Homo sapiens: one gene and its partners. The protein of the gene in region 3 interacts with the protein of the main gene of each other region in a biochemical or structural test. Each region holds a gene or a part of one and is shown on either strand. Other genes may lie near its edges.

Evidence for each region.
Region 1: the proteins of KCNJ4 (region 3) and SNTA1 interact in a test that uses a peptide from one of them, tested with the Homo sapiens proteins (2 studies listed by BioGRID and IntAct).
Region 2: the proteins of KCNJ4 (region 3) and DLG1 form a complex in vitro, tested with the Homo sapiens proteins (2 studies listed by BioGRID and IntAct, with this or other methods).

The regions. Positions count from the first base shown.
Region 1 is NC_000020.11:33,433,666-33,440,780, forward strand, and holds part of SNTA1 (alpha-1-syntrophin), read right to left. Parts: intron 5,362-7,115; coding exon 5,176-5,361; intron 1-5,175. UniProt on the Homo sapiens protein: Adapter protein that binds to and probably organizes the subcellular localization of a variety of membrane proteins. May link various receptors to the actin cytoskeleton and the extracellular matrix via the dystrophin glycoprotein complex.
Region 2 is NC_000003.12:197,064,583-197,071,697, reverse strand, and holds part of DLG1 (disks large homolog 1), read left to right. Parts: intron 1-2,437; coding exon 2,438-2,479; intron 2,480-3,160; coding exon of another isoform or gene 3,161-3,196; intron 3,197-4,943; coding exon 4,944-4,994; intron 4,995-5,888; coding exon 5,889-5,990; intron 5,991-6,233; coding exon of another isoform or gene 6,234-6,247; exon of another isoform or gene 6,248-6,249; coding exon 6,250-6,422; intron 6,423-7,115. UniProt on the Homo sapiens protein: Essential multidomain scaffolding protein required for normal development. Recruits channels, receptors and signaling molecules to discrete plasma membrane domains in polarized cells.
Region 3 is NC_000022.11:38,425,751-38,431,238, reverse strand, and holds the end of KCNJ4 (inward rectifier potassium channel 4), read left to right. Parts: intron 1-3,067; 5' UTR 3,068-3,106; coding exon 3,107-4,444; 3' UTR 4,445-4,912; downstream 4,913-5,488. UniProt on the Homo sapiens protein: Inward rectifier potassium channels are characterized by a greater tendency to allow potassium to flow into the cell rather than out of it.

The DNA of each region.
Region 1 (7,115 bases), on a different chromosome or scaffold from region 3:
CCCTCTTCCCCCAGGCCTGGCCTTCAAGGGCCCAGGCTGGCCCTGGCTTGAGGTCTGCACACACAACGGGCCTCTCGAAGCAGCGGACAGACACTTGTTGGCTGCCAACTTGGGCCCAGACTGTGGTCACAAACACACCCCTCTGGCTGAGAACAGGATCAGGACATTTCTGCAAACCCCTGACCTAGTAGAAGAAATGTTCTAGGAGGCAGGTTGGGGTTGCTGAGGCTCAGCTGAGCCCCCAACTTAGGCCAGGGAAGTAAGGCTCTAGCTGACACCTGGAGTTTGCTGGTAATGCTTGTTCTCCCAGGACATCCTCAGGGGATTCACTATCCACTGAGCTGGAAAAATATCCAGTTGCCTTGCCAAGTTCACATCCAAAGGACAGGCCATCCTTCCATGGCCCCTTGGAGGCGTCCTCAGTAATGGGATGTGAGTGGGGAAATGTTGAACAATGTGGTCAGTGATTCAACTCCGGGGAAACCTAGGCCCAGAGAGGGTCCCAGGAACCCTGGCTGCTCCAGACTGGTGCAACTGCCAGGCCCAGACCTTCTCCACTCCCCAAAGTCTCAAGGACCAGCCACAGCCCAGCATCCTCCTATCCTTCAGACCTCTCTGATCACTCTTGCCATTCAGAGATTCCTGACTCCAGTGCCTTCCACCACTCCTCCTCCCCTCTTTGTGCTATCTTGAGTGGAATGACCTCCTTCCATGAGATCTTGGGCCAGGAGAATAGGTCGAAAAAGACTTCAACTAAGGAAAAGTGGGGAAAAACATGAAGGCCACATTCTTCTTTCTCTTACCCAGGCCATAGGCAGGGTTCACCAAGGAATGATCTCGTCCTGTGAAACATCTCAGAGAATATAAGAGCAGGGGCCCCTCAGTCCTGGGATGATACACATGTTACTTCTCTACTGCATCTGTAGTAGACATTGCTAATCAATTCCAGCTCCTTTCTGCTGAGCCCAGACAAAGCCTCCCAATCCTTCCAAATATGGAACTCACAGAACCACCAGTGGAGCTGACGCTTACACTCTTTTTTTTTTTTTTCCTACAGAGATGAAATCTCACTGTGTTGCCCAAGCTGGTCTCGAACTCCTGGGCTCAAGTGATCTGCCCACCTAAGCCTCCCAAAGTGTTGGGATTACAGGCGTAAGCCACCACGCCTGCCTGGAGCTGCCACTCTAAATAAAAGCTATTGATCACCTCTGATCTAGCCTAACTTCAATAGGAAAACTGAGTCCCCTAGAAGGCAAGGGTCTTACCCAAGGCCAAACAGAGATTTATTGCAGAGCAGACAGGATTTCAGGCACCAGCTTTTTTTTTTTTTTTTTTTTTTTTTTTGAGATGGATTCTTGCTCTTGTCGCCCAGGCTGGAGTGCAGCGGCACAATCACGGCTCACTGCAACCTCCGCCTCCCGTGTTCAAGATTTTCCTACCTCAGCCTCCTGAGTAGCTGGGATTACAGGCACGCGCCACCATGGCTCAGCTAATTTTTGTATTTTTAGTAGAGACGGGGTTTCGCCATGTTGGCCAGGCTGGTCTCAAACTCCTGGCCTCAGGTGATCCACCCGCCTCAGCCTCCCAAAGTGCTGGGATTACAGGCGTGAGTCACAGCACCTAGCCACCGGCTTTTAAAGAGTTTCTGTAGGCCAGGCATGGTGGCTCACGTCTGTAATCCCAGCACTTTGGGAGGCCCAGGCAGGCAGATCACTGAGGCCGGGAGTTCGAGACCAGCCTGGCCAACATGGCAAAACCCTGTCTCTACTAAAAATACAAAAATTAACCAGGCCGTGGTGGTGCACACCTGTAATTCCAGCTACAGAACTGAGGCAGAGAATCGCTTGAACCTGGGAGAAGGAGGTTGCAGTAAGCTGAGATCGCACTACTGCACTCCAGCCTGGGCAACAGAGTGAGACCCTGCCTCAAGAAAAAAACACAGTTTGTGTAGAGGAGATAGTGTTTATGTTTTGTCTACCCTACCACATGGTGAGCTCCTTCAGGAGAGGCCCTGGGTGTAGTTTAGCTTCTGACCTTAATATACACAGCAGGCACACAGTAGATGTCCATGAATGTCTCTTGGCTTAGTGAGGAGGAATGCATGACATGAGTTAGAGGGAAGGCTTGAGTATTCACTCCTAAAGTCAGAAGATGCTTCAAGGTCACACATTTACAGATACTACCTTCTCAAAACGACATACATGGGAACCCAGATAGATACATTTTTAATCTAAAGATGAGGAGGTGGGCCGGGCGCGGTGGCTCACGCGTGTAATCCCAGCACTTTGGGAGGCCGGGGCGGGCAGATCACAAGGTCAGGAGATCGAGACCATCCTGGCTAACACGGTGAAACCACATCTCTACTAATAATACAAAAAATTAGCCAGGCGTGGTGGCGGGCACCTGTAGTCCCAGCTACTTGGGAGGCTGAGCAGGAGAATGGCGTGAACCCGGGAGGCGGAGCTTGCAGTGAGCCGAGATCCCGCCACTGCACTCCAACCTGGGTGACAGAGCAAGACTCTGTCTCAAAAATATAAATAAATAAAAATAAAAAATAAAGATGAGGAGGTGAGGGGACCTCCGTGTGAATGTGGATTTGAATTGTGTCTATAGCAGAAATTTTACCATAGACTAAACTTTCAAACAACAGAAGCTAAAAGAGCTTTCAAGTCAACTAAAATATGACATTTCGATGAATGTCAGTGGTTTCAAACCGCATTGCTGACTATAAATATCAAAGTAATGAGGCATGTGGGGAAAGTCTCTTATATCCATATCATTTATGTGGCATTCTATTATTTAACTTTGCCATTAAAATATGATTGATACACTTAAGCTTCTAAGGATCAACACTCTAGAGTCAGCTTTTTTTAAGTATCAAAAAAATGCATCTAGACTGGGCACTGTGGCCTGCAATCCCAGCACTTTGGGAGACTTAGGTGGGAGGATCCCTTAAGCCCAGGAGTTGGAGACCAGCCCAGGCAACATGGTGAAACCCTGTCTCTACAAAAAATTGGCTAGGTGTGGTGGCTCACGCCTGTAATCCCAGCACTTTGGGAGGCCGAGGCAGGCAGATCACGAGGTCAGGAGTTCGAGACCAGCCTGGCCAATATGGTGAAACCCTGTCTCTACTAAAAATACAAAAAAAAAATTAGCCAGGCGTGGTAGTGCGCACCTGTAGTCCCAGCTACTCGGAAGGCTAAGGCAGAAGAATCGCTTGAACCTGGAAGGCGGAGGATGCAGTGAGCCAAGATCGCGCCACTGCTCCAGCCTGGGCGACAGAGTAAGACTCCATCTCAAAAAAAAAAAAAAAAAAAAGCTAGGCGCAGGGGCTCACACCTGTAATCCCAGCACTTTTGGAGGCTGAGGCAGGTGGATCACAAGCTCAGGAGTTTGAGACCAGCCTGGCCAATATGGTGAAACCTCATCTCTACTAAAAATAAAAAAATTAGCCGGGCATGGTGGTGGGTGCCTGTAATCCCAGCTACTCAGGAGGCGGAGGCAGAAGAATTGCTTGAACCCGGGAGACGGAGGTTGCAGTGAGCCGAGATCATGCCACTGCACTCCAGCCTGGGCAACAGAGTGAGACTCCATCTCAGAAAAAAAAAAAAATTAACCAGGTGTGGTGGCATGCATCTGTAGTCCCAGCCACTCAGGAGGTTGAGGTGGGAGGATTGTTTGAGCCCCGGGGGGTGGAGGGTGCATTGAGCCAAGATCATACTACTGTACTCCAGCCTGGGTGATAGAGCAAGACCCTGTCTCGAAAAAAAAAAAAAACAAGAAAAAAAAATGCATCCATGGCATTTAAATAGATATACCTAAAATATAAAATAAAACTTTACATTTTATTTTCTTTATTTAAATTTTATTTTATTTTATATCTGGGTCAACCAAGGACCGAGAACCTATTTGCTTCTGTGGCCTCTTGGACACTCCTTTAGGGAAACCAAGGCAACCCACCAGGATTTGGGCCTGGGACTCAACTCAGCAGCTTCTCTGGCCGTGTTATTCTCCATCAGCCCCCGCCACCTCCCTGTGCCTGTTCTGGGCCATAAGCCAGAGACACATTCCTCAGGCCCCCACGGGGCTTCCAGAGCTGACAGAGTTTGAGGAAAGGGCTGAGCAAAGCAGAAACCTCTTGAGAGACATGGCACAAGATGGTCATGGGACAACCTCAGCAGGAGGCGTGTAACAACTGATGGGGAAACCGAGGCCCACAGAGGGCAAGGGTCCCACCCAAGACCACACTGTGAGGGAACAGTGGAGAAAGCCATTCAACCAAGGTTCCTCCACAAAACTCCTCTCTGATCCTGGCTGGAAGGATTTGATGTCCTACTCTATAAAAGCCAAGGCCTCTGGGCGTGGTGGCTCATGCCTGTAATCTCAGCACTTTGGGAGACTGAGGTGGGTGGATCACCTAAGGCCAGGAGTTCAAGACTAGCCTGGCCAACATGGCAAAACCCTGTCTCTACAAAAATATAAAAATTAGCTGGGCATGGTGACGCACACCTGTAATCCCAGCTACTTGGGAGGCTGAGGCAGGAGGATCACTTGAACCCAGGAGGCAGAGGTTGCGATGAACCAAGATCATGCCACTGTATTCCAGCCTGGACAACAGAGCAAGATTCCATCTCAAAAAAAAAATAAAGTAAAATAAAAGCCAAGGCTTCTCCCAAAGGAGGATGGGTCTTGGGGTTTTAAGGCCCAGGCACTAAAAGAACCTGAAGTCAAGAGCTCTCCAGGCCCCACAGGAAAGAATCTGACCTGCCCCTTCCCCAGTCCGCACCCCTCTCTCCCTGTGTCACTCAGGTGCTGGCACACTCTGCCATGTACATTTTTGCCCTAGTCGCAACAACCCAGAAAGGCAGGAGCTACATCCCTGTTTTACAAATGAGGAAACTAAGGATCAGGGAAATGAAGTGACTTGTCCAGGGCTACACAGCTAGTGACTGGAAGACAGAAAATGCAAATCAGGTCTGCTTGGCTCTATGCCAACTCTCCCTCCACCACCCCACACTGTCTTCAGGCAGGTCCCCAAATTCTGTTTCTGTTTTCAGTCCTGCCCACCTCCCAGCCCCCAGTGCTGGGATGGGGCCTTCTGAGGCCTGGGGGAGGTAGAGAAGCAGTGGAACACCTCCACCCAGCCCCTCTGAACCCTGGAACGTCAGTGCTTACCCTCCAGCACCACCTCCTTGCCTGTCTTCTTGAGGACCTGCACCGCCTCATCATGGGTAGCAGAGGACAAGTCTTCCCCATTCACAGACAGGATGGCATCCCCCACAAAAAGGGCCTCTGTCTGGTCAGCTGCCAATCCCTTGAAGATCTTGGAAATGAGAATAGGCATCTTGTTCTCCCGGCCGCCTGCACAGGTACAGAAGGAGGACAAGACTTAGGCAGATACTCCAACACTTGGGAGTCACATCAAGACACAATTATTTCTGAAGGCTTCCCTTGGTGCCTAGCCCAGTGCTGGAAAAGGCAATGGGAGAATAAAGGGAATCTGAGAAAAATCTTGGAAGTTTGGGACACTAGTAACACTAATAATAAATCATTTTTGATTAGGTCCGGTGGCTCATGCCTGTAATCCCAGCACCTTAGAAGGCTGAGGTGGGCAGGTCACCTGAGGTCAGGAGTTCAGGATCAGCCTGGGCAACATGGGAAAACCCCGCCTCTACTAAAAATACAAAAATTAGCCAGGCACCTGTGGTCTCAGCTACTAGGGAAGCTGAAGTAGGAGGATCACTTGAGCCCAGGAGGTCGAGGCTGCAGTGAGCTGAGATTGTGCCACTGCACTCCAGCTTGGGTGGCAGAAGGAGACCCTGTCTCAATAAATTAATTAATTAAATAAATCATTTTCAAAATTCATAATGCTATAGTTTGATCCCTGGATCTTTTGATTAAGTGCTTTGGGTGTTCACCAGTGTTTGTGCAACTTACAAAGTGCTTCAATCACTTTTTCTTAAATGTTTTCGATTTTCTCATGTAACCCATAAATATATATGCCTACTATGTACGCACAAAAATTAAAAATGAAAATAACCGGACAAAGTGGCTCACACCTGTAATCCCAACACTTTGGGAGGCCAAGGTGGTCGGATCACTTGAGACCAGTAGTTTGAGACCAGCCTGGCCAACATAGCGAAATCCTGCCTCTACTAAAAACACAAAAAAGGGCCAGGTGCGGTGGCTTATGCCTGTAATCCCAGCACTTTGGGAGGCCAAGGCTGCCAGGTGGATCACCTAAGGTCAGGAGTTCGAGACCAGCCTGGCCAACATAGTGAAACCCTGTCCCTACCAAAAATACAAAAAATTAACTGGGCGTGGTAGCGGATGCCTGTAATCCCAGCTACTCGGGAGGCTGAGGCAGGAGAATCACTTGGACCCAGGAGGCGGAGGTTGCAGTGAGCTGAGATCACGCCATTGCTCTCTAGCCTGGGCAACAAAAGTGAAACTCTGCTCAAAAAAGTAAATAAATACATAATAAAAAAATAAACAAATAAAAAAATATGGCTGGGCGTGGTGGCTCACGCCTGTAATCCCAGCACTTTGGGAGGCCAAGATGGGCAGATCACCTGAGGTTAGGGGTTCAAGACCAGCCTGGCCAACATGGCAAAACCCCATCTCTTCTAAAAGTACAAACATTAGCCGGGCATGGGGGCGCATGCCTGTAATCCCAGTTACTCGGGAGGCTGAGTCAGGAGAATTGCTTGAACCGGGAGGCTGAGGTTGCAATGAGCCAAGATTGCACCATTGCACTCCAGCCTGGGCAATAAGAGCGAAACTCCATCTCAAAAAATAAATAAATAAATAAATAAATACAAACACAAAAAATTAGCTGGGCCTGGTGGCACATGCCTGTAGTCCCAGCTACTCAGGAGGCTGAGGCAGCAGAATTGCTTGAACCCAGGAGGTGGAGGTTGCAGTGAGCCAAGATCACACCACTGCACTCCAGCATGGGCGACAGAACAAGACTCCATCTCAAAATAAAACAAAAATACAAAAATTAGCCAGGCATGGCGGTGTGTGCCTATAATTCCAGCTACTCAGGAGGCTGAGGCACGAGAACTGCTTGAACCCAGGAGGTGGAGATTGCAGTGAGCCGAGATCGCACCACT
Region 2 (7,115 bases), on a different chromosome or scaffold from region 3:
ACTTGAACACTTTTCTATATGTTTATTGGTTATTTGACTGTCTTCTTTGGTAAAATGCTTTGAAGAGGAACATTTTCAATTATCAGAAGAAAAACATTTTATTTTTCTAATAACATTCCAAACAATTATGATGACGCTATTCTAAGGACCATACTTTGAGTAGTGAGGCTTTATTGTAGAAGAGCTAAGTGAAATGATATTTGAAAGAACCTGCAGAATTTGATTGTGGCGTAGCTTTTGGCAGTCTTAGAGGGTTTGAGGTGAGTAGGAGAAATCTCAAAAAAAAAAAAAAAAGACAGTGAAGAGATTTTGGTAACTTAAACTTTTTATTATATAAATATCAGATATATTCAATAGTAGAAAAGTAGTAAAAATAAACCCTGCAGGTATTTGTTTATCCAGCTTTCATAATTGTCAACTGAACATTTGCCAATTCTGTTTCTTCTGTACTCCCACTTACACTCCCCTCCCTTCACCCCATTGCAATAACTAATTTTTCTTTAGTTTACAAACTAGAGATTGCAGAGGGTAATACCAATACTAATGTAAACAGAATAACTCTTTTTTTAATGTGGCGTGTTTCTGGGTATGAAATTTAAGGAAATAGGACAGAAAGTTAAAAGGTATATATAAATGAAGACATTCATAATTGTTGATACTTGTGAAAAACAGTTTAAAGCAAATAAAAATATCTAATAAATAGCGAGGTAAATAATGTATCAATCTAATAGAATATTATACACCAATTTTAAATTATTGCTGTCAAGCCCATGTGGTGACATGGAAAGAAATATTTTAATATGAGCTTTTAAAAAACCTACCATTTGGCCAGGTGCGGTGGCTCACACCTGTAATCCCAGCACTTTGGGAGGCCAAGGCAGACAGATCACGTGAGCTCAGAGGTTCAATATCAGCCTGGCCAACATGGTGAAACCAGTCTCTACTAAAAATAGAAAAATTAGTTGGGCATGGTGCTATATACCTGCAGTGCCAGGTAGTCAGGTGTCTGAGACACAAGAATAGAATCGCTTAAACCTAGGAGGCAGAGGTTGCAGTGAGCTGAGATCGTGCCACTGCACTCCAGCCTGGGCAACAAAGGGAGACTATCTCAAAAAAAAAAAAAAAAAAAAAATGAAATTTCCAGCTGGGTGTGGTGATTCACACCTGTAATCCCAGCACTTTGGGAAGCTGAGATGGGAGGATCCCTTGAGGCCAGGAGTTTGAGACCAGTGTGGGCAACATAGTTGAGACTTGTCTCTTTTATTAAAAAAAAAAAACAAAATTTTAGCAGGGCATGGTGGTACATACCTGTAGTCCCAGCCACTCTGGGCTAAGATGGGAGGATCACAGAAGCCCAGGAGAGGAGGGCGAGGCTGCAGTGAGCTATAGTCATACCACCTCACTCCCACCTGAGCAACAGAGTGAGGCCCTGTCCCTTTAATTAAAAAAAAAAAAAAAAGTTAAAATAAAAATTCAGATTTCCCTGTCTCATTGAAAGTTTTATTTTTATTTTTTAAAAATAAAAGTATTAGTCTTTGTTTAATTGAAGGGAGATATTTATTGAGAGAAAACTTGAGATGACATTTACATGGATGAGAAGAGTGCCTATGGTTTTACCAAACAATAAAGTCGTGAAATGGAGTCACTTTTAAGGAGGGCCAGGCAGTTTCTGGCTGGGTGTGTTTGTTCTCATTGTCTTTTTTATGTTTTGCAAAAGCCAGCCAGTGCCAGTCTTATCAAAGCAGAGTTTCTAAGAAATATTAGTTGGTTTTAAAATGCAATTGCCACCATCGGTGCCTTCCCTTCCAGCTGAGACATCTGAATTTATGACTTCTAATATTAGTTGGTTTTAAAATGCAATTGCCACCATCAGTGCCTTCCCTTCCAGCTGAGACATCTGAATTTATGACCTTTACAATCCTTTATCTATATGATCTCAGAAACATGGATTTTCATCTTCAGAAACAGGAGCAAAGCTGGATTGAAAATAAGATCATCTATTTATTTTTAATTACAAAGACATCCCGTCATTAAAATGGGCATCTATTTGTTTAAATATAGTTTGTCCCCTTTGCCAGTTAACGCTGTTTCAAAAACTGAAATAGTGCCAACAGTATTTTCTCCTTTGAGTTTTATGTCTACATTTGGACTAATTCAGGGTCACTTAGCCCTTTTTGTCATATTCTACTTGCTATTTATAATAGATTTGTTCATAAACTGTGTTGTACAAAAATAAGGCATTGTCCTTAATTACAGGAGTTTTCCTTTGCTAATATATATTTATTATTTGAAAAACTTAAACGTTTCAAAGAAAAAGAAAATGCTTTTAAAAAATTATTTTGTTATATATGGCTTATATCTCAACATTTCATTTTGATTATTTGCTTTTTAAACTCATGACACTGTTTTATTTTTTTTCATTGTCCTGCAATTTCAGAGCATGTAACTTCTAATGCCAGCGATAGTGAAAGTAGTTACCGTAAGTGTTTTAAGTTACTTGTTCTTTTGTAATCTCGAGTAATACATCCTCTGCAGGGGTGGAGGGATTCTGAGTGATATGTTATAAAAACCTGAAGTTATATGATCGTTATTTTAAAATCAGGGAGAGACAAGTAAAATTCTGTACTTGAAAAATAAAATCATACTATATATGTAGAGGTTAATTTATAAAATTTTAATAAAATAAAAATATTATTTGTGTACATGATACATATGTATATGTATATGTATTTTTTGTAAGAAGTAAATATCTAGTTAAATGGGGGAAAACTTGTATTTTGACCTTCTGTTTAGTAATTGGTTTTAACATGAGCACTAAAATAATATTTTTCAGTAATGCTAAATTATCATTAGCTTTATTTCCATTTTTATTCTTTGTCACCAATACTGATCTGGGTCATGTCATTGTTTATCACCAGCACTTGGTGAACGGAAGAAATAAGGAAACATTTTCAATGATCACCTGAAAAATAATACTAATTTTTCTTTTGCTGTTTTATATTACATTCTTGGTTTTATTAAGTGAACTGCACAAGCATGTGATGTTTTAAAACAGACTTGGGCATGGGAGAAGGGGAGGGTACATAATATCAGTTGTAGCACCTTAAAAATTAAAATTACTTTTCTAACTTTCTTTTTTTACTGCTGTCTAATATGAAAGTAATCTTGATTACAGATGAGTATGGCTGCTCAAAAGGTCCATCCTGTTAATATCAGTCCCTAATACTTTTTCATGTTGACAGTATATACTTTTAACCGTCATTCATTTGGTTGATTATTTTTCTACACAATAGTTACTTAATGATTTTTTTTTTGGTGTGGAAATGATTTCCTGTATTTCAGCATTTTATTAATTATAACCAGAACCCACTATAGGGTAGTTGAGTGGCTTTCTAGGCTAAAAAGAGGTAATGAAAGTATATACTGTCTCTCACCATTTGCATGAATTATTAAGGTGTGAAATATTCAAATTGCATGTGTTTGCTAGTATGTAAGCCATGTTTCACATCCAGTACTTTAAAAAACAGCTTATAAAATATTGGTCTTATGTACTTTGATAATAAAATTGAAAACAAAGAAATACTTCTAAAACAGAAAAGAATGTTTATGCCAATGTATGGATTTAAAAGACCTACAGCTACATACATATAATATAAACCAATTGCAAAATTCATGGTAAAATTGTTATAGGATCTTGATAATTAAAGAGAAAGTCTTCAAATACATTATCCAATATTGATTGCTTTCATTGAACCACTTGGGTTAACACAGTCTTTTCTAATTTTAGGCGTGGGGGTGAGGGGGGATGTGTGTGTGTTAGTTTAAAACTCCTAGAGTTTTTGGCCGGGCGCGGCGGCTCACGCCTGTAATCCCAGCACTTTGGGAGGCCGAGGCGGGCAGATCACCTGAGGTCAGGAGTTCGAGACCAGCCTGACCAACGTGGAGAAACCCTATCTTTACTAAAAATACAAAATTAGCTGGGCATGATGGCACATGCCTGTAATCCCAGCTACTTGGGAGGCTGAGGCAGGAGAACCGCTTGAACCCGGGAGTTGGAGGCTGCAGTGAGCTGAGATCATGCCATTGCACTCCAGACTAGGCAACAAGAGCGAAACTCCGTCTCAAAAAAAAAAAAAAAAAAAAAAACTCTCAGAGTTTTTAACTATTTATTTCTTTTCACTGGATTCAGATATTCAGATATAATTTGTAGACTCTTTTATTTAGAGTATTTCCTAAGCTCCGAACCTTTAATTTAACCTTTAGAAGCTTTAACTTCTTGTGTTTTTAAGGTCAAAGCAAATATATTTATCTCCTTTACTATCACTGTTGTTTATTTTCTTGGAAGGATTTAGTTTTATCTAAAGCTCTTTTTGACTCACATTAAATTTATTATTTTTTTACAAAGTTGAGTTAGTGAATTTTTCATCAGTGAAATAGTAACAGTAGTTTTACCTTTGCATTTATAATTTTTAATTTTAAGATGTAATTATTTTAAAAATAAAATATACTGTATTCAGTATTGTAGTTGGTGGAACAAAAAAAGTAGCATGTTTTTAATAGTAACAAATTACCTAATACGTAGATAGATGATAGACAGATCTGCTCATTAAAGCATTAATCTTTAACAGATTTAATAATTCTTAGATTCTAAATAAAGGAGTAGCACATAGCATCACAAATGAAGATTTTTAGATTTGATTATCTATAAAATATAATATTGATTATATAGCCCATTTGTATTTTGTTTTACATTTAGCAAACTCACTTTTAAGACTTTATAATTTGACACTTTTTTTTAACTAAATCTTGCCATAAAGTACCTCTTTCCATATCTTTGCCATTTTCTCAGGAAAGTTCTAGTAATGTATATGTTGTTTATGAAGAATTAGATTAGCATCAATTATCTTTACACATTTTTCATCTGTGCCTTCACTTTCTAATAGGTGGTCAAGAAGAATACGTCTTATCTTATGAACCAGTGAATCAACAAGAAGGTTTGTGAAGCCTATTGATGTTTTATAACCTTCTAGAAGAATATACTTTTTAATTTGGGGGAAAAAAATTCTCATACCCCAAAAAATGTTGTATTAAAATTTTTTTTTACTACATATACATGTAGAAATTTACTACATGTGTTTTATGAAACATAGTTTACTCCACAGAATATTAGAATCTAGTCATTTCATACTGACTTTTATATTTGTGTTTTATTTCCCAAGCAACTTTGTTCCAGTGTTCTTGTTAGCATCACTATCTTCCAAATAACCCTTTTTTGAAAATCTTGGAAGTATCTTTGAGCCTTCTCTGTTCCTCCTCCTCCTCCTCATCCAGTTAGGTTCCAGGCACTGTTTATCCCACTTCTTTCTTATTTATGACCTTCTTTTCATCCCTTCTATCACAATGTTAGTTCTCAGTCTCACTACCAATCTCCATTATTCCAGCATGATCCCAGACCACCCAGAGTTTACACTTCTGTTAGATCATCTTTCTAGAATGCTACTACTGGGATTATATCACTTCCTACATCCAGTTTCTGTTCTGCCCTTCTTTGCTCTGCTTCCTTACAATTTCTACTTCAAAGCCATCTGTAAAACACTAGACTTTATTCTGTCATTTGCAATGTAAAGAAACATTATCTGCGAAAACACCAAATTTAACTTGATTGAATTATCAATATGACTTCTAGCAGAAGACTAAGTAAAGTTTAAGATCTGAGTCAAGATTATAAAAGAGCAAGTTACGCATCTTTGGTTGATGGTAGAGTGAGATGGAGAGGGAAGAAAAAAATTAGTCATAACAGTTAAGGATATTTTTGTTCGCTGGTGAAATAAAATACATTGATATTTGTTGAATGTTTATTCCTTTTAACATGCAGTTTATCTTTATAGTTAATTATACTCGACCAGTGATCATATTGGGACCTATGAAAGACAGGATAAATGATGACTTGATCTCAGAATTTCCTGACAAATTTGGATCCTGTGTTCCTCGTAAGTAAACCAAACAAAAACATTTAATTGTTACTCTTAACATTTCCTGTCACTGTGTGTGGGAAAAATAGATATAACCATTTTTTAATGGTTTGTACTTATTTTATCAGTTACTCTTCCATCCTCCATATTATTGTCCTTTCTCAGATTTAAATTAATCTGTTCTGTTGAACTTTACAAAACGATGTAAGTAGAAAATGGATTTATTGTGGTTTTTTTTTTAATATTAAACACTTTCCCAAGTTTTTTTCTGTTAAAGATACAACTAGACCAAAACGAGATTATGAGGTAGATGGAAGAGATTATCATTTTGTGACTTCAAGAGAGCAGATGGAAAAAGATATCCAGGAACATAAATTCATTGAAGCTGGCCAGTATAACAATCATCTATATGGAACAAGTGTTCAGTCTGTACGAGAAGTAGCAGAAAAGGTAAGCATCAGACTAATCCCAGAATATAGCTTCTAATCAGATATGCCTTTGACAGTATGCAAGACTGGTAGGATAGATACAGCACTAATTAGTTTTGTTAATGTGATGAATTTGCTTACCTAAATAATTAATTTTCCATGGCTTAGGAAAGTGCATACAAGATAAAACAGGTAAATAAGGTAAACAAAGAAAGTGAAAATAGAAATGATAACATGAATGTAAGAGAAGTTATTTTCAGGTCATTTGCTAGAGATAGACCTTTTGTTTAGGCCTAGCTCTCCAGCATATATTAAAAGGAGATAAGGGCCGGGTGTGGCAGTGCACCCTTACAGTCCTAGCTACTGAGAAGGCTGAGTTGAGAGAATCACTGAAGCCTGGGAGTTTGAGGCTGCAGTGAGCTATGAGCATGCCACTGAACTCCAGCCTGGGCAACAGAACAAGACCCTGGCTCTTAAAAAAAGAAAAAAAAAGAAAGATCAATAAATCTAACCACTTAAAATTTTTAAAAAACTTTTTTTATGGCCAAAGACTTTTTCCAAAAACTATTGGAAAACACCATTAACAATGTCAAAAGACAACTGACAGAAAAAATTTGCAAGAAAAGGGCTAATATTCCCAATATATAAAGAACTCATAAAAACAGGGAACAGAGACCAGAAACCCAATAGAAAAAAACAGTGGACAAAAGATCAG
Region 3 (5,488 bases):
CGTCTGCAGCACCAGGTGAACTCGCCATGTCAGGAGGCAATCCCACCGGGCAGAGAACCAGGGATCCCCTGGAACCCTGGGCTTGTGTTTGGCCTTGGGCAGGGCCCCCCACCTTCTCTGGAGCTCAGTGACCTCACCCGTTGAAGGCCTGGGCCGCCACACCCTGTCCCCTCTGCCTCTATCCTGCACACCTGTGGATGGTGGTCCAGTTTGGACTGGCTGGTTTCTTCTCTTCCCTTGCCCCAAAACCCACTCCAGCCCCCTGCAGGGAGGAAGTGGATGAGGAGCTCTGGGGTGGGGGTGAGGCCTTGTTCAGGGCTGGCCCACCTGGCTCCACTCTGGGACTCTTAGCAAGTCCTTCCTATCTCTGGATGTCCTTGGTCTCCGATATAAAATGAGGGTCCTGAACTCGGTGACCCTATGCTCCTCCTGTCCTGACAGTCCGCGGTGCCCCTGGAGCCATTTCAGGCAGTGGGACAGAACAGGGGGAATACATTTAGCAAAGAAAGGCCTCCCTGAAAACTCTATTTACAGAGCAGAAGGTGTGCCTGGCCCCAGAACCCCAAGCCTTTCTCCTGGAGCCCTGGCTGCTGGGATGCTGCGGGAGGGGGCAAAGAGGGTCTGGGCCTCCCAGCTCTGAAGGGCCAGCATTACGTTAGAGGCCGTGCCTGCATGACCTGTCGGGTCTCCAGCATGATATCTCATTGGCCCAATTTTCTCATTTTCTTTTTTTTTCGAGACGAAGTCTCACTTTGTTGCCCAGGCTGGAGTGCAGTGGCACGATCTCGGCTCACTGCAACCTCTGCCTCCCAGGTTCAAGCGATCCTCCTGCCTCAGCCCCCCAGTAGCTGGGATTACAGGCACACGCCACCATGCCCGGCCTAATTTTTGTATTTTCAGTAGAGACGGGGTTTCTTCATGTTGGTCAGGCTGGTCTCAAACTCCCAACCTCAGGTGATCCACCCGCCTCGGCCTCCCAAAGTGCTGGGATTACAGGCGTGAGCCACCGCACCCAGTCAGCCCCATTTTCAAGATGAGGAAACTGAGGTTCAGAGTAGTCAACAGCTCGCCCAAGTCACACAGTGGATCTAGGACTTCAACCCAGGACTGTAGGAGCCAGGGAGCTCTTTGAGAACCAGGGGAATAGGGAGAAGAACTCGGAGTCAGGGTGGGTGACCGCGGGGGAGGAGGTGGGGGCAGGGCTCACTCTCCCTGGGCCCGGAGAGGGAGTTTCTCTTGGGAAGAGGCAGGCTCTGAGGCTGTTGATCTCTAAATTATAGCGTTGGCGCGTACCGGTTGCTGCGGCAACCGAGTTGTCCTGAACCGGGGAAGTGTATAAACATTGCCACAGATGCACAATTAGATCAGGAAGAAGAATAGAACAGAAAATAGAAACTTCCAGCCTTATGTAATTCTGGGCCAAAATGTTATTGGGAACCCAGGCCCAGTCCTGGCCCTGCCAGCTGCTGGGGCCTGGGGCAGCAGCATGTCTTCCCTGGGGACGCAATGGCAGAGAGGGGTGGAGAGAAGGTCTGTCCTCTACGGGCCCGAGGCGCATCCCGCCACCCAGTGGGGTGAGGGGCCTCTTCTGCTGCAACAGCTGGGGATGCTTGACAGGCAAATCCTGCCTGTCACCAGCTCCTGGGAAGTGTGGGAAGGAAGGCAGGAGGGTGATGGCTTTACCCCAGCACCTGCTGTCCCCGTAGGTCCCATGAGGTAGGGAGTTTTGGTGCCCATGTTACATGAAGACATGGAGGCTCTGAGAGGTGAACTGAATTGCCCGAGGTGTGTCCTCCCCTCCCACTCCCTGTCTCCCCGCCATCAACTCATTCATGTTGGTGCCACGCAAGTTTGTATCCACTGCCAGCTTTGTGGCTGGCAGGTGGCTTTCCATCTCTGAGCCACCTGGGACATGGGAATAGCGATGTCTACAGAGGAGTCAGAGCTGGGGGCTCCCCCTTCCTCCACCCTGACTGTCACATTGGATTCTCCCCTCACCACTGCTCCTAACAAGTGTGGGCACTGGGCAGGAATTTGGGCTCAAGGACTCAAAGCAACACTGGGAGAGAAGAGTCTAAGAAAGGAGCTCAGACCCAGGTGGGGCTGCGGGTCCCAGTAGAACTTTTTCTTTCTTTTTTTTTTTTTTTTTTTTTTTGACATGGGGTCTTGCTCTGTGACCCAGGTTGGAGTTCAGTGGCATGATCACAGCTCACTGCAGCCTTGACCCCCTGGGCTCAATAGATCCTCCTGCCTTAGCCTCCTGAGTAGCTGGTACCAGAGGCATGCACCACCATGCCTGGCTAATTTTCTTATTTTTTGTAGAGATGGGGTCTCACTCTGTTGCCCAGGCTGGTCTCAAACTCCTGGCACAAACAATCTTTGCATCTCGGCCTCCTAAAATGCTGAGATCACAGGCATGAGCCCCTGTGCCCAGCCAGAAATTTCTCAGTGATAGAACTCTCCTGTGTCTTCTCTGTCCAGTGTGGTGGCCGTTGACCACATGTGGCTCCTGATCACTTGAAATGTGGCTCATGCAAGGAAGGAGCTGCAGTTAATATTTTATTTCGTTTTAATTAAATGTAAAGAGCCACACGTGGCCAGTGGCTAGTGCACAGGAGGATGTCCAGCCCCCGAGAAGCCCAAAAGTGCAGAGATGGAATCCAGGGAGGGAAGCGGGCTTAGCGCCTCCGTGGCTCCCTATGCTCAGGGCAAGCAGGACAGAGGGACAGGGAGGAACCAAGATGGGCATCAGGAAGCTTCCAGAACAGTGAGCATAGGAGGGCCGGAGGGGCAGTGTTGAGGGGCAGGGACTAGGACCTGGATCCTTGTGGCTTTAGCTTCCTGGTCTATGGACCCCAGTCTCTAAGCTGGGCCGGACTGGGTGGCACTGGCTCAGACCCTGTCATCAGAGCCACCTCTGCTGCCACCCTCCGCCTGCCGGGGCAGAGGAAGTCTTAGGTCCTGGTCCAGGCTCACCTGCTTCTGAGAGTCTTGGGGCTGAGTCTGAGTGGCCCCGAGGGAGCCCCTCGCTCCCCAGCATCTCACCTGTCCGGCTTCTCCTCCGCAGGCCCTGCGTCTTCCCAGGTGACCACGCCGGCTTCAGGACATGCACGGACACAGCCGCAACGGCCAGGCCCACGTGCCCCGGCGGAAGCGCCGCAACCGCTTCGTCAAGAAGAACGGCCAATGCAACGTGTACTTCGCCAACCTGAGCAACAAGTCGCAGCGCTACATGGCGGACATCTTCACCACCTGCGTGGACACGCGCTGGCGCTACATGCTCATGATCTTCTCCGCGGCCTTCCTTGTCTCCTGGCTCTTTTTCGGCCTCCTCTTCTGGTGTATCGCCTTCTTCCACGGTGACCTGGAGGCCAGCCCAGGGGTGCCTGCGGCGGGGGGCCCGGCGGCGGGTGGTGGCGGAGCAGCCCCGGTGGCCCCCAAGCCCTGCATCATGCACGTGAACGGCTTCCTGGGTGCCTTCCTGTTCTCGGTGGAGACGCAGACGACCATCGGCTATGGGTTCCGGTGCGTGACAGAGGAGTGCCCGCTGGCAGTCATCGCTGTGGTGGTCCAGTCCATCGTGGGCTGCGTCATCGACTCCTTCATGATTGGCACCATCATGGCCAAGATGGCGCGGCCCAAGAAGCGGGCGCAGACGTTGCTGTTCAGCCACCACGCGGTCATTTCGGTGCGCGACGGCAAGCTCTGCCTCATGTGGCGCGTGGGCAACCTGCGCAAGAGCCACATTGTGGAGGCCCACGTGCGGGCCCAGCTCATCAAGCCCTACATGACCCAGGAGGGCGAGTACCTGCCCCTGGACCAGCGGGACCTCAACGTGGGCTATGACATCGGCCTGGACCGCATCTTCCTGGTGTCGCCCATCATCATTGTCCACGAGATCGACGAGGACAGCCCGCTTTATGGCATGGGCAAGGAGGAGCTGGAGTCGGAGGACTTTGAGATCGTGGTCATCCTGGAGGGCATGGTGGAGGCCACGGCCATGACCACCCAGGCCCGCAGCTCCTACCTGGCCAGCGAGATCCTGTGGGGCCACCGCTTTGAGCCTGTGGTCTTCGAGGAGAAGAGCCACTACAAGGTGGACTACTCACGTTTTCACAAGACCTACGAGGTGGCCGGCACGCCCTGCTGCTCGGCCCGGGAGCTGCAGGAGAGTAAGATCACCGTGCTGCCCGCCCCACCGCCCCCTCCCAGTGCCTTCTGCTACGAGAACGAGCTGGCCCTTATGAGCCAGGAGGAAGAGGAGATGGAGGAGGAGGCAGCTGCGGCGGCCGCGGTGGCCGCAGGCCTGGGCCTGGAGGCGGGTTCCAAGGAGGAGGCGGGCATCATCCGGATGCTGGAGTTCGGCAGCCACCTGGACCTGGAGCGCATGCAGGCTTCCCTCCCGCTGGACAACATCTCCTACCGCAGGGAGTCTGCCATCTGACCTCCAGGCCCGGCCCTCACCACTGCCCACAAGAGCCTCTGCCGGGGGTGGGATGCCAGGACACCCCCTCCCACACTCAGGACAGAGCCAACCCTGGCTCCGTGGACCTTCTGGAGGAAGGTGGGGGTTTCAAAGACTGGGGGACCCCTTCCTCCTGACTCCAGCACCCAGGCCTGGGAAGAGCTCGGCCCCGATCAGCCTGAGTTCCGCCAGCGCCTACTTCTGGTGGCTCTAGGTCCCCGGATCCACCACCCTTCCCCCACTGACTCTTCAAGGACGTGCCCTCTTTGCTCTCAGAACCTTGGGGAAGGTGGCTGGACTGCTGGGCGGGGGACATCTCGGGGTTTCAGGGTGGGCAGGGGGTTAGTTTGGGGAGGGGGGGGTGCGTTTCTTTTGCATGACTGTGGCCTGTTGCTCATGACTTTCTTTTGTAAATATCTATAAATGGAGACAGATGGAGACACCAAATTCACTTTCTGCCGTTTTTACCTGCTGGACAGGGAGATGCAGTCCCTCTCTGTGCACCCCTCCCCACCCAGCCCATCAAGCCTAGCGCCTTCCCCTGCCCAGCTGGCTGGCCCCTTGAGGCCCTCAACGCCAGCCACCTTGGCCCTTGGATGGTGTTGGGTTTGGGTGCAGAGGAGGGACTCTGAGGGGTGGGATGAGGGACCATCCCTCCCTCCCTGCAGTCCCTCCAGCCCCGGGCCCAGCCCAGATTGACAACAGAGTTTGTAACCATATATATATATATATATATATATTTTTTTTTTATTTTTTATTATTATTTTTTTTTCTTGAGACGGAGTTTTGCTCTTGTTGCCCATGCTGGAGTGCAATGGAGCAATCTCGGCTCACTGCAACCTCCGCTTCCCAGGTTCGAGCGATTCTCCTGCCTCAGCCTCCTGAGTAGCTGAGATTACAGGCATGAGCCACCATACTCAGCTAAGTTTTGTATTTTTAGTAAAGATGGGGTTTCACCATGTTGGCCAGGCTGGTCTCGAACTCCTGACCTCAGGTGATCCACCCACCTTGGCCTCCCAAAGT